4 linked regions of the Homo sapiens genome follow. The protein of the gene in region 1 interacts with the protein of each later gene in a pairwise test. Each region holds a gene or a part of one and is shown in the gene's direction. Other genes may lie near its edges.

Evidence for each region.
Region 2: the proteins of LDOC1 (region 1) and CFAP53 interact in binary tests that used the Homo sapiens proteins (3 or more experiments, as listed by UniProt).
Region 3: the proteins of LDOC1 (region 1) and ZNF564 interact in binary tests that used the Homo sapiens proteins (3 or more experiments, as listed by UniProt).
Region 4: the proteins of LDOC1 (region 1) and ZNF629 interact in binary tests that used the Homo sapiens proteins (3 or more experiments, as listed by UniProt).

What each region holds. Positions count from the first base shown.
Region 1 is NC_000023.11:141,174,127-141,182,030, reverse strand, and holds the start of LDOC1 (protein LDOC1), read left to right. Parts: upstream 1-4,901; 5' UTR 4,902-5,009; coding exon 5,010-5,450; 3' UTR 5,451-7,904. UniProt on the Homo sapiens protein: May have an important role in the development and/or progression of some cancers.
Region 2 is NC_000018.10:50,263,475-50,270,453, reverse strand, and holds the start of CFAP53 (cilia- and flagella-associated protein 53), read left to right. Parts: upstream 1-3,958; 5' UTR 3,959-4,049; coding exon 4,050-4,118; intron 4,119-6,979. Other genes in the region: MBD1 (methyl-CpG-binding domain protein 1), read left to right, coding at 636-825. UniProt on the Homo sapiens protein: Microtubule inner protein (MIP) part of the dynein-decorated doublet microtubules (DMTs) in cilia axoneme, which is required for motile cilia beating.
Region 3 is NC_000019.10:12,527,463-12,534,483, reverse strand, and holds part of ZNF564 (zinc finger protein 564), read left to right. Parts: intron 1-5,787; coding exon 5,788-5,914; intron 5,915-6,119; coding exon 6,120-6,180; intron 6,181-6,567; coding exon 6,568-7,021.
Region 4 is NC_000016.10:30,784,186-30,792,196, reverse strand, and holds the start of ZNF629 (zinc finger protein 629), read left to right. Parts: upstream 1-4,991; 5' UTR 4,992-5,169; intron 5,170-7,681; 5' UTR 7,682-7,714; coding exon 7,715-7,787; intron 7,788-7,923; coding exon of another isoform or gene 7,924-7,942; coding exon 7,943-8,011. UniProt on the Homo sapiens protein: May be involved in transcriptional regulation.

The sequences.
Region 1 (7,904 bases):
GGCAGAAACAAAACACGTGTATAAACTCTTGTATAATCACTGTGACCAATTATATTAAAATAACTAGGCAAGAGAAAAACTAACAACTATCTAGTGCAGCACACTGCAGGCAATTAATTCTATATTATGGCAATACAAAAGCCTATACATGAAGAATACAAAATACTTAATATAAAACATTAATTCATAAAAATCTTTCAGTTACAGAAAGCTGATTTTCCAGTTCTATATCTGGAACTATGACTTTATTTGCACCACGCTTTTTCTATATCATCTAAGAAACTGAAGCGTTGAGTCTCCTTAGAGAGAGAGAACAAGAGAGGGCAAAATTTGAATTTTCAACAATCTTATTAAGTGATATTTTGTGAGAAGGAGAGGTCTTAAGAATGTTCCTTTTTTATTTTAAGACATCAATATTATTTAAGGTATTTCAACCATAAGAATACATCAATTTAGTACATTAATAAACATGTAAAAATGTTTCCAGCACTTTAGTAAGCTGGAGAGGGCAAAGACAGGAGGGAGGAAGTTGTGCCTCTTCATTCCTCTCTCCGGGCCAGAGGTCTCTATTGCCCTCCAAGTGAGGTTTCTGTAAAAAGCAGTCCCAGGTGCACCTGGCTAAGAAGGGGGATGGGGGAAGTCTATGTGGGAAGAGATCTGGCTCTTGGCAGCATTCATGCAGTCCTCTCACAAATATTCTTTCCGAAGCTGTTTCTGTTCCTGGCTGTATATTTGAGTGCTGAGTTAGTTCACCCAGTCGATGTGTGCACACTCATCTGGTGGCTCAAGAATCATGGGAAATTTTCATGTTCAAGAGAATTTTACAGTCTGGATGCTTGATGTGTACCAGGGCACGGTTTGGAGCCTGAAACATGGTGGTAGTGAGTGCCTTGGACTTGTGCTCTTGCCAAACGGTGGAGTCTAAGCCACCCTTAGGGCGTTCCAACCCAGAGCTGTCCTGATAAATTTTACTGGCCCGAGACAAGTACTCCCTATGAGTACTTGTCACAGGGAGTACTTGTGTCTGCCCCCAGCATATTCACGTTAAGTGGAAAGGAACACTTAAGGGCCACTCGAGAAGGGGAAAGAAAATGAGGAAGGCGACATGCAGCTGTGAGCAGGGTGAATGGAGAAGGAAGTGCTGATATGCATTGGCACTGGTGGGAGAGCCTCACAGGCACCTGGAAGCTGGTTAAAATGAGCATTAAGATTCTACATCTTCTATCAACTGATACTACATACCTCTTCCTGACTGCTTCTGTTGTGAGTCAGTGCTAAGCTGCTTGTCTCCATTCCCTTTCTCCAACCAGGGAAGCACCTCCCAAAGTCACTGCTCAGTTCTGGGCAGGACATTTCCTGTCTTCCAGGGTCTCAGAGCACACTCAGAGGGAACAATAGTGGTTGCCTCGTCTGGTTTCCTCCCTGAATCCCTCTGCTGTGGGGTTGTAGGGAGAAAATTAGGGCAGCATCTGCCTAATCATCTCTGGTTCCCCACTAGACCTGCCTGGGCCCACTGAAGTCACAAGGGTCCAGCACATATTAATTATTCAGAGCAAGGGCATGGGCGGGCTTTAGAGTTAGAGAGGTTGGCATGAAGGTATAGCACCATCAACCTATTGCTTTATTAGGTTTAGATATTTACCTCCTGGGTCTCTGGCTCTAAAATGCCCATTCCCATGTCTGGTCCTTGTGTATGAGTCATTGTGACAGCCCTGCCAATCACCTGGCCCAGTGTCTGCTACAGAAAGTGTGCTCTAGGCCGGGCGCGGTGGCTCACGCCTGTAATCCCAGCATTTTGGAAGGCCGAGGCGGGTGGATCACCTGAGGTCAGGAGTTTGAGACCAGCCTGACCAACATGGAAAAACCCTGTCTCTACTAAAAATATAAAATTAGCTGGGCGTGGTGGCGCATGCCTGTAATCCCAGCTACTCGGGAGGCTGAAGCAGGAGAATCGCTTGAACCCGGGAGGCGGAGGTTGCAGTGAGTCGAGATTGTGCCATTGCACTCCAGCCTGGGCAACACGAGCAAAACTCTGTCTAAAAAAAAGAAAAAGAAAGAAAGAAAGTGTGCTCCCAGGAGTCGAACCCTGAGTACTCTTCCTGTATTAGGGCCTGGATATGAAAGGTGAAGCTGGACACTACCTCTGTCCCAGTCAGGCCCATCCTGTACTCTGAACTGTAAATGGGCATGATGGCCAGAGACCTACTTTCCACATTTCACATCCCTCCCCTCAATCCTTACACTGAATGTTTACGGAGCAGCTAGTAAACACTGCCAGGTGCTGAAGATAAAATTAAGAGTGAGAGTGGATCCCTGCCTGCCAACTTCTCAGGTGGCGGAGCTCATAGCACAGGAGAGGCCAAAAGCTCACATTCCTCCTATCTCTTTTTTTCACTGCTTATCCTTTCACCACTGTGATCTTCCCCGTGTCCCTGCTTGGGGCTTGGCCCTGTTTCTCTGCTCTTTCCCAGCCTCCTACTTCCATGGATGATCATTCAATTCTATCCTAAAGGACCGAATCGAATTTCTTTAAAAATCTATTCAGCCAGTTTTATTACATCAGTCATTGTTTCACAATCGAGACTGATCCATGGTCAGAGATAAAATACACTGAACAATTTTTTTTCTTTTTTTTTTTTCTTTTTGAGATGGTGTTTTGCTCTTATTGCCCAGGCTGGAGCACAATGGCGTGATCTCGGCTCAGGCAACCTCTGCCTCCCAGGTTCAAGTGATTCTCCTGCCTCAGCCTCCCAAGTAGCTGGGATTACAGGCGCCCACCACCACACCTGGCTAATTTTGTATTTTTTGGAAAGACAGGGTTTCTCCATGTTGGTCAGCCTGGTCTTAACTCCTGACCTCAGGTGGTCTGCCCCCCTCAGCCTCCCAAAGTGCTGGGATTACAGGCATGAGCCACCACGCCCAACCTTACATTTAACAATTTGAAGAGTATTTTTTGACTCTTTGTGCAGCGACAACTTCTGATTTTCATCTCAGCATCTTCACTCTGGGATGATTTTACTCGCCAAACATTAATGAAGCCTCTACTCTGGGCCAGAACTTTTCTAGGCATTAGGGATAGACCAGATAGCAAAAGCAGTGTTTGACTTATATATTCTAAAATGGAAGCAGATGATGAGCAAAGTACTGTATATACATACGACATGGTGGCCGGTAGCACAATAAATGTTATGTAGATAAATGAAGCAGAGTAAAGGGTTACAGATTGGGGGCAGAGAACAGGGTGCTCTGATAGGTCCGGTGGTCAGAAAAGTTCTCTCTGAAAGCAGTAGGAGGAGTCAGGCAGCCAACTGGGATGACAGCCTTGCAAGGCAGAAGGAATAGAAGATGCAAAGGCTATGAAGCCAGAACTGCTTGATGGGTGTGAGAATCAGCAAGGAGGACAGTGATTAGAGCACAGCAGAAACTGGGAAGAGGCACAGGATAGAAGGAGGGGCCTTGTAGGCCTTGGCTGCAACTTTGCTCTTTATTCTCAGGTGAAACTGTTGGAGGATTTTGAGCAGGAGAGTGAAGGGATCTTTTTTTTTTTCTTTTGAAACGGAGTCTCGCTCTGTAGCCCAGGCTGGAGTGCAGTGGCGCTATCTCGGCTCACTGCAACCTCTGCCTCCAGGGTTCAAGCAATTCCCCTGCCTCAGCCTCCCGAGTAGCTGGGATTACGGGCATGCGCCACCACGCCCAGCTAATTTTTTGTATTTTTAGTAGAGACGGGTTTCACCCTGTTAGCCAGGATGGTCTCGATCTCCTGACCTCGTGATCCGCCCGCCTCGGCCTCCCAAAGTGCTGGGATTACAGGCGTGAGCCACCGCGCCCGGCCCTAATTTTTGTTTTAAAGGATTCCCGTGGCTACTCTATGGAGAATATACTATAGGAAGAAAAGAGTGAAAGCTAAGTGATTAGTTGCAGCAGTCTGGGTGAGAAAGAAAGGCTAGGAATCAGGGTGGCAGTGGCAGAAATGACAAGACGTGATTGAATTGGCAATATATTTGAAAGCAGAGCCAACAATTCATGTTGGCTCTAGAATCAGGGATCCATTCAAAGTAGAAAAACAAAATTATTTAAAAACACAAACATCTTAACAGTTCATTTTTAAGTACAGAATAATACCCAGTGGCCAACGGCACTAATAGCAAGACAAGAAATAGAGAATCAAAGATATGTGGGATGCCTGCAATTGACTATTGGATGCTGATTTTGCAGAACTTTTTTATATCTTGTTACTTAGGTTTTGTGTGTGTGTGTGTGTGTGTGTGTGTGTGTGTGTGTATACCATATTATTTCCCTACTAAAGAAGTCACTGTTTAAATACTACCTTTTTCATGAAAGGCAGGACCCCCTGAGGGTCTTCATGATTCTAAAAGGAAGTGTGACTCCCACAGGGCAGCCAGCAGTGTCAATACTTCTCTGAGTGAGATTTAAATAAGAAAGAAAATGTGTTAATAAAACATCAAGCCAAGAGAATCTAGTGGCCACAGACCCACGAAGGAACACTGAGTTGTGCAAGCTACCTAGGTAGAAGGGTGGCTAATCCTTTCAGTTTGAACAAATTTACCTTCTCTGAGACCGGACTCAGCGCTCGCCAAGTCCTCTGCTAACGCAGGCCCCACAACTAGGAGCTAGGGGAGCCTATCCCAGCCTTTAACTGCCCGCCGAGAGACCTACCACAAGCCGGTGGTTCAGCGACCCAGCGCATCCTTTTCCTGGCCACGCCCTCTTTGTCTACACCCTTCCCATCCCGGCCACGCCCCCACGCCGCCGCGGCCCCCCCACTCCCAGCCTAGCCACGCCCCTCCCCCGTCGCGCCGGCGCACCGTCCGTCCGAATGGCCTCGTGGGCGGAGCTTGCGTAGCCTCCCGGACCCCGGCGCACACCGCCCCCCGCCCCCCGCCCCTGGCCACCAAGCGCCTCCGTGGACACGCACTTCCTGCGAGGGCTCCGTGCGCACCTTGGCCGAGCCGAACCGAGCCGAGTCCTGTCCTTCCAGGCCGTTCGCAATGGTGGATGAGTTGGTGCTGCTGCTGCACGCGCTCCTGATGCGGCACCGCGCCCTGAGCATCGAGAACAGCCAGCTCATGGAACAGCTGCGGCTGCTGGTGTGCGAGAGGGCCAGCCTGCTGCGCCAGGTACGTCCGCCGAGCTGCCCGGTGCCCTTCCCCGAAACGTTTAATGGCGAGAGCTCCCGGCTCCCCGAGTTTATCGTGCAGACGGCGTCTTACATGCTCGTGAACGAGAACCGATTCTGCAACGACGCCATGAAGGTGGCATTCCTAATCAGCCTCCTCACCGGGGAAGCCGAGGAGTGGGTGGTGCCCTACATCGAGATGGATAGCCCCATCCTAGGTGATTACCGGGCCTTCCTCGATGAGATGAAACAGTGCTTTGGCTGGGATGACGACGAAGACGACGACGACGAAGAAGAGGAGGATGATTATTAGGCCCTCGACCCTCGGGCCTCGGGGGGGAGGGCCCTGCACGCCGCCACCCCCTCCCCGCAGCCCTCACCCCGCCAGGAGCCACTGCTCTCCCCCTTGCCCTCCGGTCCCCTTACCTACCCGCGCCCGTCTGCTCTCTCTCTTCATTTCTCCGTAGTGCTTGTCTTTGTTCCAGGAATAGCGCTCCAGTTACCTGCTGCTGGGGTCGGGGCTGGAGCCTCACTCACTCGGAAGTGCTTGGAAGTGTCATCTACCCTGGCCATCCCCGGGATCCCTCCCCTGCTAATCTGAACTGTGTCCTGAACCCCAGCTATTGGCCAGGCCCCTGTTACAAACTGCGCAGACCACCCGTAGCCCTGCTGCTGCCACCTGCCCTGCTGCCAGGCTTACATCTTCCCAGAGAACTATGCTGCCACTTCACATCCACTCACCACATCCCACCTACAGACTACCACCTTTCGAGATCAGGACCAACCTGGAAAATGCCAGAGTTGGCTATGCCTTTTCAGACATTGATTTGGACAGCTCACCAACCCCTGAAGGGGCCGTTCAGCCTGGTTAGTTTTCTACCTACTCCGAGTGTCCTCCCCTGCCCCACCAGATTGCTGCAGGGGCGCGGTGTGCCTGGCAGCCAAATTGTTGACACTTCTTTTTTCCTATGCACTGGTTTTACACAGCTGTCATTTTTCTTTCAAAATTGCAGCAGTCCCACAGATGTGTGCATTTGGACAAATAGTACTTAAAAACAAAACAAACAAGCACTCAGCCCAGCTCCTCAATACTACCTGGAAAAAGCATTGGCATTATTTTCAATAAATATCAAGCACTAAAAAAAGAAATGATTGTCTTTTAATGGTTAAGTGCTATCACTGGCCTCTACCACTGTCACTCTGACTACCATTATTCCCGTGGAAATCAGGGAATACAACCAATCCTAGTATTCCCCGCTGTCATCTCCAGGCTGCTGGGGACAGCTACCTCAGGGCTTTGTCAGGGTTCTGATGCTCCCTTCACCAACGCATTTCTTAAAGCCCTGGCAAAGGGTGTGTTCTCTGGGTCCTCCAGGGTGGCGTGGTTAAGGGTTGGCTGAGCAGACGGCAAAGAGAGCAGTATTAATAATTAGACCATAACAATAGGCGTAAACCTGGACATATATATGTAATGCTCCTAATTCTCTGAGCTTTTGGATTCCTTAACACTGTGCCAGGGAAGTTCTGCCCCTTAATCCTTATTGCCTATGTGCAGCTGTTGAGTTCAGACTCCAGAGAGCCAACATAGTAGATTGTCACTTTCAAACTCCAAATAGCCAACATGTCACTTTCAGGTGCTCCAGCTAACATTAAGTCCCGGATCCTGGGCAAGTGCACCCATAAAGATATAGCCTGATCTTAACAAACATTTCGTTCTCCTTGGACAGACATCCTTAGAATTCCCACTCATAGATGTGTCCCAGATTCCTCCCTATGGAAATTAGCAAGATGCTTGGTTATCTCTTAAATCAGACCTTGTACTGCTATCTAGGGGCTATGCTGAGATCTCTGGGCCTGGAGGGTTCAGAGCAGTGAAGGGGGTGGCTGCTGAGAAGAAGCTGCATACCTGTGTGAGGCCATTGCTCCAGGTTAAGTCATTGAAATGTTTAATGCAGAGCAGCTTGGTTGGGGATTTGAGAGGACTGCCTCTTAGAAAGGTTTAGGAGGATATGAGGGGTTCAGAGTTCTCTTTTATATCTGTCCAGATGTCCTCATTGTACCATGTCTGGAGCCAACTTGACTTTATAACCTTTAATTAATTTAGATAACACATTTCCGTACTGTTTAAGGCCTTTTGAGGCAAGATATTGTATTTGTACTGGTAAACCTCAGTGTTGATTAAATGAGATATGGGTCTTCATATTAATCACCTCATAGGTGCGGATTAAATGAGATCATACCCATGAAGCATTTAGAACTTTCCCTGCTACATGGTGAGCACTCAGCAAACCATGGGCTGTTACTCCTGGGCCAGGGAACAGAAGTCTCAGAAAGCAAGTCTCTGACTCTGAGCCTGGCTTTAGTAGGAAAATGTCAGCGTGAAGAGGAGCAGAGCAGGTTCAGGGAGAATGGAAATGAGAGCATGATAAGACCCCATTTACTTTTTGGAGTCTTATATGAAGCAAGAAACAAAGCTGTTTTACGTGGTGGACAGGCAAAGTTCAGGGTAGGAGTTATATCTCACCCCTAGGATAGCTGTTTCTGGAGGGTGGGGACAGGGTTGCGTATGACTTAATAAAAGAGGCTGAGGCTTGGGTGGAAATGAGATCTGGGGCTCTTCAGGGAGCTGCCGCCTCCAAATCTGAATCAAGGAGACAGCTGGTTATTTAGAATTCATTGATCACTTCTCCCAGTCTCCTTGGAAAATATACAAAACCCCTTGGAAGAGAGAGATTATATTTGAGACATAATATGTGTGAGGCCAGAT
Region 2 (6,979 bases), on another chromosome or scaffold:
GTTCTAGGAGGCTGAATTCCTGCTTCGAGTCCTGCCCAAGAGCCAGTCTTGGCTCAGCCCTACCTCACTCTCTCCCAATTCTTCATTCATAAAGTGCCAAAAAGATTAGACCTGTAATTTGTTAGCCAGCTTTACAGGGCCAGGACTGAGTGAGTGCCTCCTTAAACTTTGTATCCTGTGTGCCTCCCTTGCCTTACCCTAGTCCCAGCCCTGCAGCTTTAAGTAATTCAGACATGGATTAGCCATTTCCCAGTTCTGTCTCATACAGTCCAGCCTCTGCCACCTTCCCCACCCCTTCCTTTATTCCATCCTAACTAGTTCAGCCCTAGTCAAGACTGGATAGACTGATACTGCTTTGTTTCCCCCAGGAACCAACCACCCAACCCCAGTATTCTGGTAATTTTGACAATGATCTATATGAAATTTATTTGATTGACATTTAGACTCATGAGTTAAGCTTCTGCTGACCATTTATGTTAGGGTACAATCAGAGGAGCAGAACCACTAAGATAAAGATTATGTATATATGTATTTTAAGGGATTTATTATAGGGATCTGACCGCATGCCATTGTGGGAGCTGGTTAAACAGTCTCTGTAAGGCTGTTGTCTTTGCATCTAATGCTGGAGCTTGAAGTCTGCAGGGCAGGCACTCGGGAAGGGAAGATGGATGTAAAGTGTGGGAGACCGAGGACACAGTGGAGCCCACGAGCACGAGCTGGAACCCACGAGGATGGCCTGGAACCCATGTCAGTCTCTCACCACCTCCAGCTTCGATGATGTGGGTGTCCTGCAGAAGAAGCTGGTGCCCTTCCTCACAGAGTTAAATATGCATCTGGCCCAGGAATTAGAGAAGCTGAAAGGATGATCCTGGGGAAGGTGGAGCAGCTGCAGGCCTGGCTGCAGGCCTGACTACTGCCCACACCAACGAGGTGATCTAGCAGATACATGGCAACGTGTGAACTGCAACAACGCCTGGTGCCCCAGCACCAACCTTCCAAGTGTAAAAACAATGTGCTGCTGCTTCACTTCCGCCCTCCGGTTATCAAGCAAAATGTCTCTTGTGGCCCATCTTACTGGAAGAGAGTTCCGGGAAACATAGCCTCACCAAGGTGACACATTACAAAGCCACCCTACCATGAATCCGCTCCCAAGGGTCTCACTGCTCACCTGAGGATAACTCAATATAACTATGTGGCTGAAAATGCAAAGCTGAAGACCATGGATTTCATGGTGATTCCAGCAAGTACAGAGATTCTATGAAGCCCACCCAGAAAAAACTTGCTGGTCCTGGCTATTTTTGTGTCATTTATTCAAGTATTGAGAACCTGGCCTGTGGTAGGCACTGTACTTAATACTAGGATACAGAAATGCAAAAGATACGGCCCATGCAATTTTATTAAATGCATCAATATGTATTACAAATGGTGAATGGATTTCCAACTTTATCATGGAATTTAATGCTGAATATATAGAATTCAGAAAATTGTTGGGAGGACAGCCCTTTTGTGAACCTTGTTTGGGGCACAGTAGGAATTGGAAATAATTTAGTTTCTATCTCTAAGCTGTTCTATTTTAAAATTATTTTTAAATTTTTATTGTCCCACTTACTTACATGCTTAGTGTTTCTTTTGGGAGTGGTTTGGTGGGAACAGTGTTGACTGCCTCTGAGAAACTGGGATAGTGGGTGGGAAGATCAAATCAAGGTCACTTCTTTCCAAGGACCCTGAGCGATTCACTTACCTAGGCCGCGGGGGCGGGGGGTTGGCTGAAGGCTGAGGCTCTTGGTGCTCAGCACTGGCCGGACACCTTCAACCTGCTGGTGGGTCCGCCAGGGGGCGCCGGGGCGAGAAAGCCCGTAGTTCCCAGCCACAGTCACCCACCGGGGCCCTGGAGGCACCGCTCGTCACCCATCACCCCTGGCCTGGCCGCCCTGGGGCGTGGTCTCCGTCCGGCGCAAACCCCAGTACTTGGGCTAGGGCCAGAGGGAAGCTGAGTCCCCCTCTTCAAATAGTGGTAAAACAGGCAAAACCGAACCGGGGTTAAATTTCGGAGCTCGCCCAGGGTGAGGGCGGGGCTCGACGACCTAGGACGTTCGAGTGCGGCCGGGTGTCGCCAAGGGTCGGTTTACCCCATCGCCTCAGAAATTCCGACGAGGCCCTTTGGGCTGCACAACCTTGGGAATCCCCAACGGGCGGCCCCGAATCTGCGCCGATTTTCCCAAGCCGTACTTCGGGCCCAAGGCGTTTTCATTGCCGCCTTCCCGGAGGATGTGTGGTGGGGGTGGTTCCGCCCGGACCGACGGGCGGGCCCGGAGCCCGTTGGACTCGAAGATCAAAGAACCGCCCCTCTGGACACTCCAGGAAACCGAGACGACCACCTAATTTGTTTGTTTTCTGTTTCAGGCCACGTAAACTCTTAGTAAATGCAAATGCGTATTTTACTGAACTGCAATTGAAAGAACCGTTATAGAAAAGAACACAAAATGACAGAATTATTAAAAGAGAAGAAAAACATTATTTCGTGGCTGAAAAGCTGAACCAGCAATTCAGGAAATGGAATTCGTATTTAGAAACATACCACATACAAAATCCGAAGTGGGTGGTTTACAAATGATTAAGGAATGCTAATTTACAGTAAATTGCGTCCTTAAGAGGGCATACACATTAGTTGTACTTATTATATGTCAGTTTGACGTAGGTACTGATTTGTTGCATGTGCTCACAAGTGTTCTATGCTCACCCCCACTTTAGAATGGGAGTATCACAGTGTCATTCTTAATTGGCTTTTAGGTATTACCACCTTGCTCTTGACTGGAAATGCAACTGTGGTTACCACCTGTGCTGCAGGTCCGTCCTGGTTCCCTGATTTGTGTTTCCTGTTCTGCCTGGATCCTGATTCTCAGAAACCAGTTACTGGACTTCTGATCCACATCCTGACCCTGGTCCACTGTGACCCTCAGACTCTTAATTATGCTCCACCAGGTCGTGCCACTGCCCCACTAGTCCATTTGATCTGCCCCCATCCTAGGATATCCTGAGTCTAAGCCCTGGTTTCTGCCAATGGCAAATAGGAAGATTTTATTAACAGGTTTTAAAAAATTATTATTATTACTGGTTATTTGGTTTGACAAGGCACTTAGGCTCCCTGAGCTTTGCCTTAGCTGGAAAATAAGGATAGTATTACTTGCTATTCTATCAACCCTGTAAGATATTTGCGGCCACGCGCGGTAGCGCACCCTGTAATTCCAACACTTTGGGAGGCCGGCGGGAGGGGCAGTGGGGAGGATCGCTTGAACCCAGGAGCAGGAGTTCCAGCCTGAGCAACATAGCGGGACCCCCTGTCTCTTCAAAATTTGTTTTTAAATTAGCAGGGCGTGGTGGCGCAGGCTTTGTAGTCCCAGATACTCTGGAGGCTGAGGCCCAGGAGGACGAGGCTGCAGGGAGCCATGATCACGCCACTGCACTCCACCCTGGGCGACAGAGCGAGACCTTGTCTCAGAAAAAATCTGTGAGGTTAAAAGGCTGTGTGTGTGAAAATATCTTGGAAATTGTAAAGAACTACACAAATATAAGGTTTTCCTGTGATTATTACCGTCATCAAGATTAACCTACAGATAGTGCAAAATTTAAGCTTCCCAAAAAATGTTCGCTAACCTTTTTCATACTTTTAGACCATTACAAGATATAAATAGCAAAGTCAACTGGAATTGTAATTAGAGCTTTGATTTTTCTTGGGCTAGAGGTTTTTTCTGCCATTCTGATGAACCCTGGAGGAAGGGAGCAAGGTCGGCGGGATTTGGCCGAGGGGCGGGGTGAGGACTGCGCAGGCTCAGCTTCTCAGCTGGAAGAGGAAGTCCCGAGTGCAGGCGTCTGCGGCCCCCATGGTGACCAGACCGACTTCCGCCCGACCCGCCCACCTCTACCGGCCCCTAATCCCGCGAGGCGCACCATGGCAACCAGACTTCTGCGTCGCGGAAGCGGGTCCCGCAGGTCGCCACGGTTGGGGGAAACGCGGCGGACGCCGCCCCCGTCCCGAAGGGGACTCGAAAATGTACAGCCAGCGGTTTGGCACCGTACAGCGGGAGGTTAAGGGCCCCACCCCCAAAGTGGTGATCGTGGTAAGCACAGGATATGTCTGCCAGACCCTACAGCTTTCTCCATCTCTCCGCACTCCAGGCCTGGCCTATCCCACTTCGGCCCCCACCCGGGGCCTTCTCGAGGGGAACGGGTGTCGCCTGATGCAGTGGGTTGAATTTTGAAAGAAGGAAGATAAGGTCGCTCACCTATCTACCCCACCTCTCACCCACTCATCTCCCTCTGTTTTCATCCTTACAGCCTTTCATCTGCCCCCAAAGTTATAATATTTAGGTTCTGTTTTTGGAGAATCACCACTAGGGATCTTAGGGTTTTTCAGTCTCCAAGACACCGGAAGGATGTCTGTCCCCCATGCAGTGGCGAGTGTGTGTTATGGAAAGGGCACCCGGCCCAGAGACAGATCTGGGGGCAGGGCGGGCCTATGATTTGGAGCTGGTCTTTCACTCCTAGGAAAATCGTCTGAGGAAGGGGAATTAGGTTGTGAGTGGTTATAGCACCCAACGCCTTTCCTGTGCCAACTCAACCAGTAACCATTGCTGGACAGAAGTGTCCCTTCAGACCTGGGAAAAACTCAGGTGCCTGCCTCTAAGGCTGGAGTGGTAGTAGGCCAGGAAAATGTGCTTGCTGCAGAATTTGATGGTTCCTGCTGAGAACCTCAGACACTATTGGTCCATACATGTAGATTTTTTTGTTTCTACAAATTAGTTTCTACCCACCAGAAAACTAACATGTAGGCAGAGTTATTGCTTGAGCCCCTGCTGTGTGCGCAGTATTGTGGGAGATACAGGGGTGGATACAATGATCCTGGAAGGTTAACTCTTTATTGAAGCCTGAGCCCTCCCTTCAAGGAGCTTATACAAGTCAAGTATCCCTTATCTGAAATGCTTGGGACCAGAGATGTCTAGGATTTCAGATTTTTTTTTTGGATTTTGGAATACTTGCATATACATAATGCAATATCTTGGGGAGGGGACCCAAGTCTAAACACAGAATTTATTTATATTTCATTACCTCGAAGGTAATTTTATTTTCCCCTTGGGGATGCTGAATAAATATGTGTTGTTTGCTTGTGTTTTGACTGTGACCCCTTACATGAGGTCAGGTGTGAAATTTTCCACTTATGTCATCATGTGGGTGCTCAAAAAGCTTCAGATTTTGGAGCATTTCAGATTTCAGATTTTCAAATTAGGGGTGCTCAACTTGTAATCCAATTGCAAAAAAAAACTTAGGTAGAATGAAACCACTAAAGGTTAGCACGGTAAATAATGATGTGCTATATTGTCTGTGATGTCAGTTGATGGATGAAAGATCAGTGATACAGTTTTATTATGCTCCACAGTGCACATAGCAAACTTCAGTCAACCTATAGACCTGCTCCTTCTTTAGGTCCAAGTACTGTAAGATCTGGAGCTGGAAAGCAGTAGATGGGACACATAAGTAGGCTGTAGGGTTCAAGGTGATAATTATAAACACACTTCATGAAGGACAGAAGATCTACTTTGGGTTCTGTATCCAAACACTGGGCTCAGGGGCTGAGCCATTGTTGGGTGCTATTACTTGTGTTGGGAACCAATAAGGAACAGAAAACAAACAAAAACACTAAACCAGAGAAGCGGGCTTATTGAATACTTTGCACCTAAGAAGAATTAAGAGGAAAAGGAGGAGGTTAGAGTTGGTGCATCTGCTCCTCCGGTGTCTGAGTGTGATAAGAAAGATAGATGTTAGAGGTAGCAGAATTGTGTTGCAAGAATTAAAGCCACCAGCAGATGAGACTTGGACCCTAAACAATTCCCCAGGAGAAACCTGTGAAAAATTTAATGTCTGAAGTAATGGGACATCAAAAGGAGCAGCTATTTGATGAGTGTCTCCTAGGAATCCATTAGGAGGATACTTATTTTGCTCATTTGACAGGTGAGAAAACTAAGATTCAAAGAGATTAAGTAACTTGCTCCATTCAATTAGTAATGGACAGAGGCCAGAATCAAACCTAGGATGTAAAGCATTGTTCTTTAAGACAACCGAACTGTAAATTGTAATCCTAATAACTATAACTGGAGATGCTACAATAACAGCCTTCAGTGACCTTGAAAACCCACAGTAGTTAGTAAAATATCCTGTGTTTTCCTGACTTTAGCATGGTTTAGAGCTGTGATGTCCAATAGGTAGCCACTAGTCACACATAGCATTTGAGCACTTGAAATGTGCCTAGAGTCACATATTGACAAGATAACATCTTGGATATATTGGTTAAATAAAATATACTATCAAAATTAACTTCCCCTGTTTCTTTTTACTTTTTTAAATGCAGCCACTTGAAAATTTAGAATTACATATCTGTTTTGCATTATATTTATATTGAACAGTACAGACTTTGAACAATACCACGACTGTGCTGGGATTGGCATCACCTTTTTTGAGAACTCCAGGTCATACCCCTAACTTATCAAGAGATTGGGTCCTTCCCAGACCAGAGTCCTTCACATGATTCCCAAGCCTTAAAAGGCTTCCTGACCCCTTGGGTACTGCTCATGGTATTTGTCACCTCTTCAGCCAAAATATCCCTCAGCCCTGTTTCCTGTCCTGACAACTGGAGCCAGTGTTTCTAGATTTACTTGGTGTTTCATTCCTGTTCTCAGCTCACACTGGGACCCTTAATTCCTGCTGTGTATGCTGCCAAGGGTGCCACTGTGATCCTCCTCTGCTTTATTTTCACAGATCTATATTCATAAAATGCCAACTGTATTGGAGAACAGTCATCTAATTAGCTGGCTCTAGGCTCCAGATAATTATGACATGGATTAGCTACTTTCCATGATATAACCCCCAGCATCATCTTCTGTCTCCTTACCACCCCAGGCTTGCCTTATCTTGTTCAGCTAAATCT
Region 3 (7,021 bases), on another chromosome or scaffold:
ACTGTTTTCCATTCCCACAAGTAACAAATGAGGGTTCCTATTGCTTCACATCTTTGCCATCATTTGGTGTTCTCAGTGTTTTAAATTTTAGCCATTCTAATAAAGGTTGTGTTAGTCTTTAATTTTTAAATTTGTAATTCCCCAGTGACAAAATATGCATGTTTTCATATGTTTATATGCCATCTATATATTTTATATAATCATGTCTTATGCAGCAAAGACAATTTTATTTCTTCCTTCTAAATCGATATACTTTTTATTTCCTCTGTCTTGTTGCTTATCTAGGACTTTAAGGATGTTGTTGAATAGTAGTGGTGAGAGAAGACATTCTTACCCTGTTTCTGGTCTTGTGTAGAAAGCATCTAGTTTCTCACTGTTAAGTATGATGTTAGCTGCAGGTTCCTCATTGATGTTCTTTCTGAGGAGGAAGTTCTCTATTCCCAGTTTGCCACCGTGAGTGGATGGTAGATTTTGTCAAATGTTCTTTAGTTTTTACTTTTGCCTCCTTTCATTTCTGATCTTAGTAATTTCTTTTTTCTTACCATGACTAGAGGTTTATCAGTTTTATTGGTGTTCTCCAATAACCGACTTCTGTTTTTTTTTTTTAATCTCTATTGATTTCCTGCCATTTCATTGACTTCTCCAATTATTCTGTCTGTCTGTCTGCTTACTTGGGTTTAATTTGCTCTCTTGTTTTTCTGTTTTCCTGAAGTAGACTCTTTTCTTTTTTCTGTTTTTTTTTTTTTTTTTTTTTTTGGAGACAGCAGCCTGCTGTGTCGCCCAGGCTGGAGTGCAGTGGCATGATCTTGGCTCACTGTAACCTCCATCTCCCAGGTTCAAGTGATTCTTGTATCTCAGCCTACTGAGTAGCTGGGATTACAGGCATGCGCCACCACACCCAGCTAATTTTTGTATTTTTAGTAGAGACGAGGTTTTACCATGTTGTCCAGGCTGGTCTCCAATTCCTGGCCTCAAGTAATCTGCCCGCCTTGGCCTCCCAAATTGCTGGGATTATAGGCGTGAGCCACTGCACCCAGCCCGAAGTAGACTCTTAGATGATTCATTATAAACCCTTGTTCTTTCCTGGTGTAGGTGTTCAATGCTGTAAATATTCCTCTATGCACTGCTTTTGCTGCATACCCTAATTTTTGATAAATTTTGTTTTCATTTTCATTTTAGGTCAAAAATTATTTTTGATTTCTCAGACTTCTTTGATCCATGTGCTTATTTAGAATTGTGTTGTTTAATCTCTAAAGATTTGGGGGAGTTGGTAACTATCTCTGTTATTGATTTCTAGATGAATGACTTGTGGTCTGAGCATACTTTGTATGATTTTTTAAAATTTTTCATATTAAGGTGTGTTTTATGCCCCAGTATTTGGTTTATTTTTGTGAATATTCCTGTGAACTTGAGAAGAATTTGTGTTTTGCTATTGTTAGATGAAGTATTCCATGCATTTCAATTAAATCCAGTTGTTTGATGATGCTATTTACTTTACTATGTCCTTTCAGATTTTCTGCCTGTTGGATCTCTTAATTACTGCTGGAGGGGTGCTGCAGTCTCCAACTATACAAGTAGATTAGTGTATTTTTTCTTTGCAGTTCTATCAGTTGTATTTTGCCACATGTATTTTGCAACGCTTGTTATGCAAACACACACTAAGGGTTGTCAGGTTTTCTTGGCATGTTGAGTCCTTTATCATTATGTGATGCTCACTTATATCTCTTTATTTATTTTAAAAATTTAATTTATTTTTTTTAGAGACAGAGTCTCACTGTGTCTCCCAGGCTGGAATGCAGTGGTGTGATCATATAGCTCTTTGCAGCCTTGAACTCCCAGGCTGCAGCAATCTACCTGCCTCAGCTTCTCAAGTAGCTGACTGCAAGTTTGTGATACCCCAACTGGTTAATTAAAAAAAAAATTTTTTTTTTTTTTTTTTTTTTTTTTTTGAGACGGAGTCTCGCTCTGTCGCCCAGGCTGGAGTGCAGTGGCGCGATCTCGGCTCACTGCAAGCTCCGCCTTCCGGGTTCACGCCATTCTCCTGCCTCAGCCTCCCGAGTAGCTGGGACTACAGGCGCCTGCTACCACGCCCGGCTAATTTTTTGTATTTTTAGTAGAGACGGGGTTTCACCGTGTTAGCCAGGATGGTCTCAATCTCCTGACCTCGTGATCCGCCCGCCTTGGCCTCCCAAAGTGCTGGGATTACAGGTGTGAGCCACCGCGCCCGGCCAAAAAAATTTTTTTTTTTAAATTTTTTTTATAGAGATGAAGGTCTCGCTGTTCCCCAGGCTGGAGTGCAGGGTCTATTCACAATAAATTATAGCGCATTATATCCTTGAACTCCTGGTCTCAGGTGATCCTCCATCTCAGCCTCCTAAGTAGCTGGGACCATAGGCATGTGCCACTGCACCTGGCTTATCTCTGTGTTTTTTCCTTTCTCTGAAGTGTACTTTGTGATATTAAGATAGCCATGCCATGTTTCTTTTAATTAATGTTAGCATTTTATATATTTCCCTATCCCTTTACTTTTAATATGTGTGTCTTTGTATTTAAAGTGGTTTCCTTTTAGCCAACATACTATGTTTTTAAAATCCACTATAACAGCATCTGTCTTCTAATTATATTTGGACTATTGACATTCAAAGTGATTATTGATACAGTTGTATTAATATCTACCATATTTTTTACTTTTTTCTATTAGTTGCCCTTGCTTTTGTTTCTTTTTTTGTCTCTGACCTTCCTTCTTGGGCTTTAATTGAGCATTTTACCTGAGGTGTGACATATTTTGTAATCATATGATTTGTTAGTGAGCCTTTGTTCCTGGCCTGGGTTGTGGCCTTCTGTGGTATTGTAAGAAAGATATGTGGTCTTTTTTCCTCAGTGCCTACCATGGTTCTCCTATTTTTTTTTTTATTTTTTTTGGAGACAGAGTCTTGCCACCCAGGCTGGAGTGCAGTGGCACAATCTCGGCTCACTGCACTTTCCACCTCCCAGGTTCAAGTGATTCTCCTGCCTCGGCCTCCCAGGTAGCTGGGGTAACAGGTGCGCGTCAACATGCTTGGCTAATTTTTGTATTTTTAGTAGAGACGAGGTTTCGCCGTGTTTCCCAGGTCAGACTCAAACTCCTAACTCAAATGATCCTGACTCAAGTGAACTCAAGTGATCTGCCTGCCTCAGGCTCCCAAAGTGCTGGGATTACAGACATGAGCCACCATACCTGGCCAGCATTCAGAATTCTTGTTAAAGGTTAGGGAAGCTATCATGTTGTTCTTCAGAAGACTTTGACCATTGTTAGATATTCATTATTCCTGCTACATTTGGAGAAGAACTTTTTGTTGACTCTTCAACAGTTTTTAGGGGATTTATAGAATTTAAAAAATATTTTGTAAGAGGCTATCTTGAGGACATTTCATTCTTTCTCAGAACCCATCTTTCCAGCCAGGTGTGGTGGTTTACACCTGTAATCCCAGCACTTTGGGAGGCTGAGGCAGGAATTTGAGATCAGCTTGAGCAACAAAGTAAGACCCCATCTCTACAAAAAATTTAAAAATTAGCTAGACATGGTGTCTTGCGACTATAGTTCTAGCTACTTGAGAGACTCAGGAGGGAGGATCACATGAGCCCAGGAGATCAAGGCTTCAGTGAGCTGTGATCATGCCACTGCACTCCAGTGTGGATGACGGAGCAAGTTCCCATTTCTAAGAAAACCAAAAGAACCCATCTTTCCCCTTATTTTATTTTGCCTTGACATTACACAATGTAGTATCACATAGTGACTGGTCAGGAATCATTTCCTCTTGAAATTTGAGAAAGAGGATTTTATGTTCTTTTGGAGAAAAGCACTGCTGATCCCTTCGTGTATTTTATAATCATGGTCAAATTCACCATCAAACCATCTGGACTTGAATGAAATCCCTCAGAAATTGCAACTCTTAACCTGTTCCTCAAGGTTAGCAAGTCATAGGGTACCTTGTTATGTATCTGCCAGAAAAAACTCTTCTGGCATTTTGTCTTCTTAGTATGTTTGTGTATGTAAGGTAAAAATAGGTGGGAAACTGCCCTTGACGTTCATGACTGGGGATTTTGCTGGGTGAGGGGGCGCTGCCTAAGTTGCCATACCTTCTTCTTCATGCCTGAGTTCTGTCTTCCCAGTAGCTTCCTAGCCTAGTGAAATGGGACAGAGTCAAAGGAATCAGTGAGTCTATAACAAATGTTATACATGCAGGTTAAAATGACTTCTTTTGCAGAGGAATATTTTCTTTCAACCAACTTGATCTGTCTACGTCTGATGGCCTGGAATCCTTCAGGAAAGTGTGGTCAGCTGGATTTTGTCAGAACGTGGATTTCTACGGGCCTTCTGGCCTCTCATGTTTGATGAAGGGAACAGAAGAAAATGGTTTCACTTCTTCAGTGTATATTTATTTATTCATGGATACCTTTTTCAGTTTTTATCCTGTGTTTCTTTTTTTCTTTCTTTCTTTCTTTTTTTTTTTTTTTTTGAGACAGAGTTTTGCTCTTGTCACCCAGGCTGGAGTGCAGTGGCACAATCTCTACTCACTGCAACGTCCGCCTCCTGGTCTCAAGCGATTCTCCTTCCTCAGCCTCCCAAGTAGCTGGTATTACAGGTGCCCACCACCACGCCCAGTGAATTTTTTGTATTTTTAGTAGAGACAGGGTTTTGCCATGTTGGGCTGGCTGGTCTCAAACTCCTGATCTCAGGTGATCCGCCTGCCTCTGCCTCCCAAAGTGTTGGGATTACAGGCATGAGCCAGTGCGCCTGGCCTACCCTGTGTTTCATGGAATGCTGATTGGTGTGAGATATGAAAGGAAATGGAAGTTTTTCCTGGTAGGAATGATGATCTTAAATTTTTTTTTTTTGAGACTTAGTCTCTCTCTGTCCTCCAGGCTGGAGTGCAATGGCATGATCTCAGCTCACTGCAACCTCCGCTTCCTGGGTTCAAGCTATTCTCCTGCTTCAGCCCCCCGAGTAGCTGGGATTACAGGTGCATGCCACCATGCCCGGCTAATTTTTTTGTATTTTTGGTAGAGACGGGGTTTCACTGTGTTGGTCAGGCTGGTCTCAAACTCCTGACCTTGTGATCCTCTTGCCTCAGCCTCCCAAAGTGCTGGGATTACAGGTGTGAGCCACCAGGCCTGGCCAAAATTTGTTTTCTTTGTATAGCATTTTATTTGTTTCTCCAAGGTGAACTGGATCCTGCCATTAGAGACCAATAAAACTTGTAGTGACTACAGTAAAAATGTAGAGATCAGTTGCATGTTTTCATGGGGTAATTAAATTTATGAGAAAGTGAATGTAGACGGAATTCTGACAACCATATTTATTTATCATAAAATAAATGTTTGGAGACTGCCACATCGTTTTGTCGACTTTTTTGTTTTGTTTTTTGTTTGTTTGTTTGAGATGGGGTCTCTCTCTGTCAGCCAGGCTGAAGTGCAGTGGCGTGATCTTGGTTCACCGTAACCTCTGCCTCCCTTGTTTAAGCGATTCCCCTGCCTCAGCCTCCTGAGTAGCCGGGATTAACAGGCATACGCCACCACGCCCAGCTAATTCATATATCTGTAGTAGAGATGGGGTTTCACCATGTTGACCGGGCTGGCCTCAAGTTCCTGACCTCAGGTGATCTGTATGCCTTGGCCTCCCAAAGTGCTGGGATTACAGGCATGAGCCACCACACCTAGCCATTTGTGAACTTTTATGAATTGGGTTTACATCCCTGTACTGTCATCTCATTCTTCCTCCTGCATTGCATATTTGGGATGTTTTAGGACTCAGTGGCCTCTGAGGATGTGGCTGTGAACTTCACACTTGAGGAGTGGGCTTTGCTGGATCCTTCCCAGAAGAAACTCTACAGAGATGTGATGCGGGAAACCTTTAGAAACCTGGCCTGTGTAGGTAAGGATGACATCATTCCTTCTTTTAGTCAGTTAGAGAAGAAGTATTTCTTGCTTTTTAATGCTTTTTCATGATGTCTAATGTGGAAAAGGGAATACTTGGGTGAATAAATCAGGGTTGTTTGCACCTTATCATGAACTTAGAATCTAGTCATTTTTCTGTAATGTCTATCAGTTCATAAGGATTTTTTCTGACTATATTTTAGGAAAAAAATGGGAAGACCAGAGCATTGAAGATTGGTACAAAAATCAGGGGAGAATTTTAAGGTAATTTGCACTGACAAGATAAAGCAATGTCTCCTTCTTAGTATGTCATGAAATTTTAAAAATAAGTAAACAAACCAGTAAGCCCAGCTTCAGATTTATTTATTCCTACAACTTTTTCACCAGAAAAAGAAAAAGTGGCATAGATGTTCAGTGTTGCAAAATCATTCACTTGGAAATAGTATTAAGAAACTGTATATATGGATATCACTTTTTTGGTGATAGCTACTGTCAAGCTCTCTTGCAGAGCATTCCATCCATTCACTTTCAAACAATTCATACAGGCCTGAAAACTTACCCTTTCCGCGATTATGGTAAAAATGTAAGTCGAATACCTATTAATAAATATAAAGTCACAAACCACTAAATCTTGCTTTCTATTTTTTCCAGAAATCATATGGAAGAGGGACTCAGTGAAAGTAAAGAATATGATCAATGTGGAGAAGCCTTCAGTCAGATTCTCAATCTTAATCTGAACAAGAAAATTCCTACTATAGTAAGACCATGTGAATGTAGTTTGTGTGGGAAAGTCTTCATGCATCATTCATCCCTTAGTAGGCACATCAGATCTCACCTTGGACACAAACCATATGACTATCAGGAATATGGAGAGAAACCATATAAATGTAAGCAGTGTGGGAAAGCCTTCAGTTCTTGTCAATCCTTTCGAAGACATGAAAGAACTCACACTGGTGAGAAACCCTATGCATGTCCGGAATGTGGGAAAGCCTTCATTTCTCTCCCAAGTGTTCGAAGACACATGATTAAGCACACTGGAGATGGACCATATAAATGTCAGGAATGTGGGAAAGCCTTTGATCGCCCAAGTTTATTTCAGATACAT
Region 4 (8,011 bases), on another chromosome or scaffold:
AGCTCCCCTGCCAGGCAGGTTGCTGCCATGGCTGCGATGCCAGCTGATTGAGGGCAAGAGGACATGGCAGCCTTTATATCCCTAGGAGCAGGACACCCAGACTCTTCCTGGAGGATGTATTGGCCCAAATGGGGGTGCCCTGCCCTTCCCAGCTCCTCTCTCCAACTCTGAGGGAGAAGACGGAGGGACTGAGAGGCTCACCCTTGGGTCCCAGACACGCTTGGGCCCATCTGAGCAGGAGAGACGTGTTTAGGATCCACGGTGGCTCTGAAGTCACCGTGCGTGGATTTAAATCCACTCCTGCCACTGGTGACCTGTGTGCAAGTGACTTACCCTTTCTGTCCCAGGATGATAATAATAATGGTGCCATGAGTTGTGGAGGTTTAAGGAGTCATTACATGCAAACACAGTGCCTAGTGCATAAGTGCTCAATAAATGTAACTATGTCAGCAGGCACCATCCTCATGTGTTACTCTGGAGCTGGGCGTGGTGGCTTATGCCCATCATCTCAGCACTTTGCGGGGTGAAGATGGGAGGACTGCTTGAATCCAGGAGTTTGAGACCAGCCTGGGCAATATAGTGAGATCCTATTTCTATAAAAATATTTAAAAAATTATTCAGGAAGAAGTTTTGTGAGGAACAAAAAAATTTTAAATTAAGTTAGCCAGGCATGGTGGCACGCACCTGTAGCTTCAGCTACTTGAGAGGCTAAGGTGGGAGGATTGCTTGAGCGTAGAAATTCAAGGCTGCTGTGAGCTATGATCGTGCCACTGCACTCCAGCCTGGGTGACAGCAAGACACTGTCTCTAAAAATAAAAAATTACTCTGAACCTTGGAGACACAGACTAAGGGGTCCAGAATCTATACCTACAGTTAAACGGGAGTTGGAACATCAGCAGTGAAGGACCATTCATATAATGAAGCCACCTTGGCCTCAGGGTTGGGGACACAGAGGAATGACAGGGATGGTGACCAGCTGGCAGGTCAGTGCCCTGTAAAGACGCAAGCTGCCCAGCAACAGCCAGTTACTGACATGTGAAAATGTGGATCACGTTGCCACATCTTTGGATTTTCCAAAGAAGCAGGAAATTCAGGCCAGGCGCGGTGGCTCAGGCCTGTAATCCCAGCACTTTGGGAGGCTGAGGTGGGCAGATCACAGCGTCAGGAGATTGAGACCATCCTGGCTAACACAGTGAAACCCTGTCTCTACTAAAAATACAAAAAAATTAGCTGGTTGTGGTGGTAGGCGCCTGCAGTCCCAGGTACTCAGAAGACTGAGGCAGGAGAATGGTGTGAACCCGGGAGGCAGAGCTTGCAGTGAGCCAAGATTGCACCACTGCACTCTAGCCTGGGTGACAGTGCGAGACTCTGTCTCAATCAATCAATCAATCAATAAAGAAGCAAGAAATTCAATTTTTAATTTTTTTTTCTTTTTGAGATAGAGTCTTACTATGTCACCCAGGGTGGAGTGCAGTGGCATGATCTCAGCTGACTGCAACCTCTACCAACTGGGTTCAAGCAATTCTCATGCCTCAGCCTCCAGAGTAGCTAGGACTACAGGTGCATGCCACTATGTCCAGTCTCACTCTGTCACCCAGGCTGGAGTGCAGTAGTGCGATCTCTGCTCACTGCAACCTCCACCTCCCGGGTTCAAGCAATTCTCCTGCCTCAGCCTCCTGAGTAGCTGGGATTACAGGTGTGCGCCACTATGCCCAACTAATTTTTGTATTTTTAGTAGAGACGGGGTTTCACCATGTTGGTCAGACTGGTCTCGAACTCCTGACCTCGTGATCCGCCTGCCTCAGCAACCCAAAGTGCTGGGATTACAGGCGTGAGCCACTGCGCCCAGCCAGCCCCAGCTAATTTTTGTATTTTTAGTAGAGATGGGGTTTCACCATGTTGGCCAGGCTGGTCTTGAACTCCTGACTTCAGGTAATCCTCCCGCCTCAGCCTCCCAAAGTGCTGGGATTACAGGCATGAGCCACCATGCCAGGCAATTTTTAATGTGTGTTTTTTGTTGTTGTTGTTGTTGTTTGTTTTTTGAGACAGAGTCTTGCTCTGTCGCCCAGGCTGGAGTGCAGTGGCACGATCTCGGCTCACTGCAAGCTCCGTCTCCCAGGTTCACGCCATTCTCCTGCCTCAGCCTCCCAAGTAGCTGGGACTACAGGCGCCTGCCACCATGCCCGGCTAATTTTTTGTATTTTTAGTAGAGACTGGATTTCACCGTGTTAGCCAGGATGGTCTTGATCTCCTGACCTCATGATCCGCCTGCCTCGGCCTCCCAAAGTTCTGGGATTACAGGCGTGAGTCACTGCGCCCGGCCTAATTTTTTTTAAAATTATTATTATTATTATTTTGAGACTGAGTCTTGCTCTTGTTGCCCAGGCTGGAGTGCAGTGGCGCCATCTCGACTCACTGCAACCTCCACCTCCTGGGTTTTAAGTGATTCTCCTGCCTCAGCCTCCTGAGTAACAGGGATTACAGGTGCACGCCACCATGCCCAGCTAATTTTTTGTATTTTTAGTAGAGACAGAGTTTCACCATGTTGGCCAGGCTGGTCTTGAACTCCTGCCCACAAGTGATCTGCCCACCTCAGCCTCCCAAAGTGCTGGGATTACAGGTGTGAGCCACCTCGCCAAACCATCTTTTTTTTTTTTTTTTTTGAGATGAGAGTCTCGCTCTGTCACCCAGGCTGGAGTGCAGTGGCATGATCTCGGCTCACTGCAACCTCCACCTCCCAGGTTCAAGAGATTCACCTGCCTTAGCCTCCCAAGTGGCTGGGACTACAGGTATGTGCCACCACTCCCGGCTAATTTTTTGTATTTTTAGTAGAGACAGGGTTTCACCATGTTAGCCAGGATGATCTCAATCTCCTGACCTCATGATCTGCCCGCCCTGGCCTCCCAAAGTGCTGGGATTACAGGCATAAGCCACCGTGCCCTGCCCGGACTTTTTTTTTTTTTTTTGAGACAGGGTCTCACTCTGCCACCCAGGCTGGAGTGCAGTGGTGCAATCATGGCTCACTACAGCCTCCACCTCCCAGAATTAAGTGATTCTCCTGCCTCAGCCCAAGTAGCTGTGACCATAGCGATGCACCACCACGCCAGGGTAATTGTTTGTTTTTGTTGTTGTTGTTGTCTTTCTTTTTTTTTGAGACCGAGTTTTGGTCTTGTTGCCCAGGCTGGAGTGCAATGGCACGATCTCAGCTCACTGCAATCTCCGCCTCCTAGGTTCAAGCGCTTCTCCTGCCTCAGCGTCCCAAGCAGCTGGGATTACAGGTATGCACCACCACGCTGGGCTAATTTTTGTATTTTAGTAGAGATGGGGCTTCTCCATGTTGGTCAGGCTGGTCTTGAACTCCTGACCTCAGGTGATCCACCCACCTTGGCCTCCCAAAGTGCTGGGATTACAGGCATGAGCCACCGCGCCCTGCCCAGCTAATTGTTTTTAAGTTTTTTGTAGAGACAGGGTTTCACTATGTTGCCCAGCCTTCAAACTCCTGGGCTCAAGTTACCCTTCTGCCTCAGCCTCCCAAAGTGCTGGGATTACAGGCATGAGCCACCAGGCCTGGCCTTTAGCAATTTTTTCTCTTTCCTGTTTTCTCTTTTCCTTCCTTCCTTCCTTCCTTTTCTCTCTTTCTCTCCCTCCCTCCCTCCTTCTTTTTTTTTTTTTTTTTGCGACAGGATCTCACTCTGTCGTCCAGGCTGCAGTGCAGTGGCTCAATCTTGGCTTATTGCAACCTCTGCCTCCCGGGCTCAAGCGATCTGCCTGCCTCGGCCTCACAAAGTGCTGGGATTATAGGCATGAGCCACTGCGCCTGGCTAATTTTTGTATTTTTAGTAGAGACATGGTTTCACCATGTTGTCCAGGCTGGTCTCAAACTCCTGACCTCAAGTGATCCGCCTGCCTTGGTCTCCCAAAGGGTTGGGATTACAGGCGTGAGCCACCGCACCCAGCTGCCTTTAGTAATTTCTGACCTTTGGTTTATTCTTCCCCCCAGCCTCTCAGTCTCTGGACAGAGCCCTCTGCACGCTCCCAGGATTCCTCTGTGTTTGTAACACATACACAATACCAAACTTCCCAAGGGTAGAAAGCCCAATTTCCATGCATCTCAGAGGTATGCCCACCCCAGTGTTAACCACAGTGCCCAGGAATAATAATGCAGTGTGTTGAACTGAAAGAATCAGGTGGCCTTAAGTACACCAGTCGCTTCTCACACCTTGGTTTCCTCCCCGGTGAAATGGGGATGATGGGCAACCTTATCCCATGGGACTGTGATAAGGAAGACAAGAAAGAAAGGCTGTAAAAATTGCGAGCATAGATAACTTGGACGTTGAGAGGCCACCAGTGTTCCTGGGTTTTTAAAGGTTTCTTCTGCTGTGAGCCGGGTGCCCTCTGAGCTATGAGAAAAGAGGTTCTCCCTCCTTGGCCAGGGAACCCCCACTGGCTTCTTTCCTGCCACCGTGAGCCTCAGTTTCCTCCTCTGAGGGGAGGTGTTTGGAGAAGAGGGGCTGGAACACAGGCTATTGCAAATCCTTCCCGGCTGTGCTTGTTCCTGCAGTCCCAACTCCTGCAGCCATGACTTCCATCAAGCATTAAGGCCATGTTTAGTGCGTAGGGTGTTCCCTCTCAGGTCTGCTCTGCCAGCCCCTGCTCCCACCCCAGCCCCATCCCAGGGTTAGTCCAAACAAAGACTGGCCTCAGGGGATCAGCAGCCGCCAAATCTGAGATAGGGCTTTCCGGGCGCGGCCGGCGGAGCCCCTGCGAAATGAAGAGCGGCCAGAAGCCCAGGGACCCTCGCGGGCATCGGGGCTCTCCCAGATGCCCACGCTGCCTGCTCCCACTGGAGACGGGGACAGGGGCGTCGTCCCAGCCTCCTCCCTGCTCCCACCGCTGTCCCCTTTTTTCCCCAGGCTGCGGGAGGCAAAGGGTTAAATCCCATAGAGCTGATGCTCTGACTCCAGGCTAGAGGGGCCCGGGAAGCTGGGGTCACTTCCTGCTCCGTCCCAGTCACCCTGAACTGGTCCCCGGGTCCTCAGCCTGGAATCACCCCTTGAGAAGGACCCCAGAGTCCTCGGCGCCCAGTCCGTCCCCCGAGGCAGGGCACTGAAGGGGTTAAGTCCCCTGGGGCTGGATTCCGCCTTCCGGCTTTTCCCAGACCCCAGAGCCGTGAGTTGGGGACGCCTGGGTTCCCGGGGGGTGGCCTGGAGTGCCCGGGACGGCCGCCGGGGAACAATGGGGCCCGGGAGGCGGGGGCCGGGAGCCCGGGCCTGAGCCCCCCACCCGCGCCCGGGGCTGTGGCCGGGGTGGGGGCGGGCGGGGGGCGCGGAGGGCCGAGGATTCTGGGAAGCGCGGGGGTCGGTGGCGGGGGAGGGGAGCCTGGGGATTCTGGGAAGAGGGATCGGCCGGGGCCGGGGACCAGCGCTGCCAGCGCAGCCCTGGAGGAGCCTGGCAGTGCTGGAAGGAGCCGGGACCCCGGGGGCCGGGGCAGGGGCGGATGCCCAGGCTCTGTATCAGCAGCGGGACGGGGGTCGCGGCTCCGGGGGAGCAGAAGTCCGGAGCCAAGCGGTGGGGGGGCCGGGCCGGGCGGCCGCATTCCCGCCGCCTCCATGTCAGGGTCACCCTGGGCCGTTCCCCACATCTCTCGGGAGGCGGCTCCTCATTCCCTCCCTCTGCAGTGGGGCCATCGCGAGGTCTCAGGCTGGCGTGCCTGGCGCCTGGGCTCCCAGCGCCTCGGCCTCCCTCGGTCTTCCCACGTCCATGCTCTGTGTCGGCCCTGTCATTAACCCTTTCCCTCCTACTCTGGACCACTAGGGGAGAATTTTTTGGAGACCATCGAGGTCCACAAACTCTTACCTGTCCCGAGCAAACACAGCAGGGCATCCTTCCCGGACCGGACATCAGGCAGCCCCCAGTGTGGCAGAGGTCTCCGCTTCCACCACCCCAAAGACACTTACAGGCGGGGAGGGGGGATTCTCGGAGCTTAAGTAGCTGCAGAGATGAAGAAATTAATTTACTTCCTAAACGCTAACTTCTGTCTCTCCTACCGCTCTTTGGCAGGGTGCAGCCAGTCTTGCTTCACCTTGGTCACCTCTCAGCGCCTCCTGCCATGTCTCCCTTGCCCCACTGCCCCTGTGCACACAGCGCCCACCTCACACAGCCATCCAAAGTTTCCAGGCCCCACCCAGGGATTCTCTGCAGGGTGTAAATGGTGTGGGACCTCCTTCAAGCGCTTTGTTCCTGTGGCCCCATTCCCTCATCCTGAACTCATCTCACCATTTTTGGAGTGACAGCTGGCTGTTTTTATTTATTTATTTATTTATTTATTTATTTATTTTACCAGGGGGCCACTTGGAACTCCTGCTCCTTTGCTGCCATCCCCTTGCAAACTGATCTTTAAAGGCATTAGACCAAACAGGTGTTCCAGGGGCTAGGGACATCTCACTCATTCATTCATTCAACAAAGTTTCTGGAGCACCTATTCAGTGCCAGGCTAGGCTTGGGAAACAGCCTCAAGAAAGCAGGACAAAAGGAGTAGAAGGAGGGTCCGGGCAGGAGTGGGGATAGGAGGGCTTTGGTGGGGAGTATGGTTCCAGCTCATGGGTGCAGACCAGCAGGCCTAGTCCCTGGGTCCAACTCCTCCTTTTCTAGCCTGGGAAACCTCTGGGTCCCAGGAATTTCTCCAGCCTATTCTCACTGCCAGCAGGCTCCCCATGAGCTGTCCTCATCACCTGTCTCCTGCCAGCCTCCCATGAGCATGAGTCTCACATGACTCCCAAGGTCACCTCGTGCTCTCAGAGACAGGGGTGAGCCAGATATGGAGCCCTGCTTTTATCATCTTAGCTCTGCCACTTCCCAGCCTTGACCTTGGAGAGGTTTCCCCAGGCATTGATGTACTAATCTGTAAAATGGACAGCCTGATTCCTGGGTCTCCTCACCAGGCTGTGGGAGGACTGGGTGAGAGAAATGACACCATGGCAGGCACTGGGTCTGCCGCAGGTGTTCACACAAGCATCCATCCTCCCCTTCTCCTTACTTTTTCTCTTCCTCTGGGCGGTTCCTGCAGATGCAGCTTTAAACTGCCCCTCTCCCCACCTCCAGCCTGACCCTCTTTCTGTGCTTGGATAACAGGGAAGTGCCCCAGTCCTTTTAGAGGGCCTCTGTCTCCTCTGGGAAACTGGGGTGTTTTTTTTTCTTAACCCTTTAAGTGTCTCAGGCAGCCTCGGTTCACTCTGGGGCACAGAAAAGTTTATTGGTCTCAATTAGCAGCCCCATTAAGAGGAAAATTAGAGTCTTAATGAGCTTCCTCTGATTAGCAAATAACAGGTTTCCCAGCCTCTGGGCATCAGAGGTATGGGGTGAAAAACTCCTTCCCCTGTGGATGTCAGAGACCGCTCCAGCCCCCATCCTGGGTTCAAAGGCTTATGAGTGATGAGTTTTTAATTACGCTCTTAAATTCACCTGCTTGCTTAGCTGTGCGCTTAAGATCTGGAGTGAGAATCAGGCCTGCAGGGGAAGGGGGCCACAGCAAGAACCCGTGCCCAGAAAAATGGGGTGGGAGGACACTGAAGTTCACACAAGGAGGAATGGGGCGGGGCAGGGTGGGAGTGAGGTTCAGGGGGAATAAAGCAAAGTGCAAAATCAGCTCCCAGTGTGCGCTCATCGCTGTCTTCCCCCGCAGGGTCCCTGGAACACTGCAGTCCTGAGCTCTGGGATGGAGCCCGAGACTGCGCTGTGGGGCCCGGATCTGCAGGGTCCGGAACAGAGCCCCAACGATGCTCACAGAGGTGAGGGGCACAAGAAGGGGCTGCGGTCCCGGCAAGACGGTGGTCCCGGCTCAGGGAGGGGCCTGGACTCTGGGGGACACCCGGGGGAGGGAAGAGAGACCAAACCCCGTGTTCTGAAAGGGGCTGGGGGCTGTAGACTCCCTTTCTTTCTGTAGGTGCCGAGAGTGAAAACGAAGAGGAGAGCCCTCGGCAGGAAAGTTCTGGGGAGGAGATCATCATGGGAG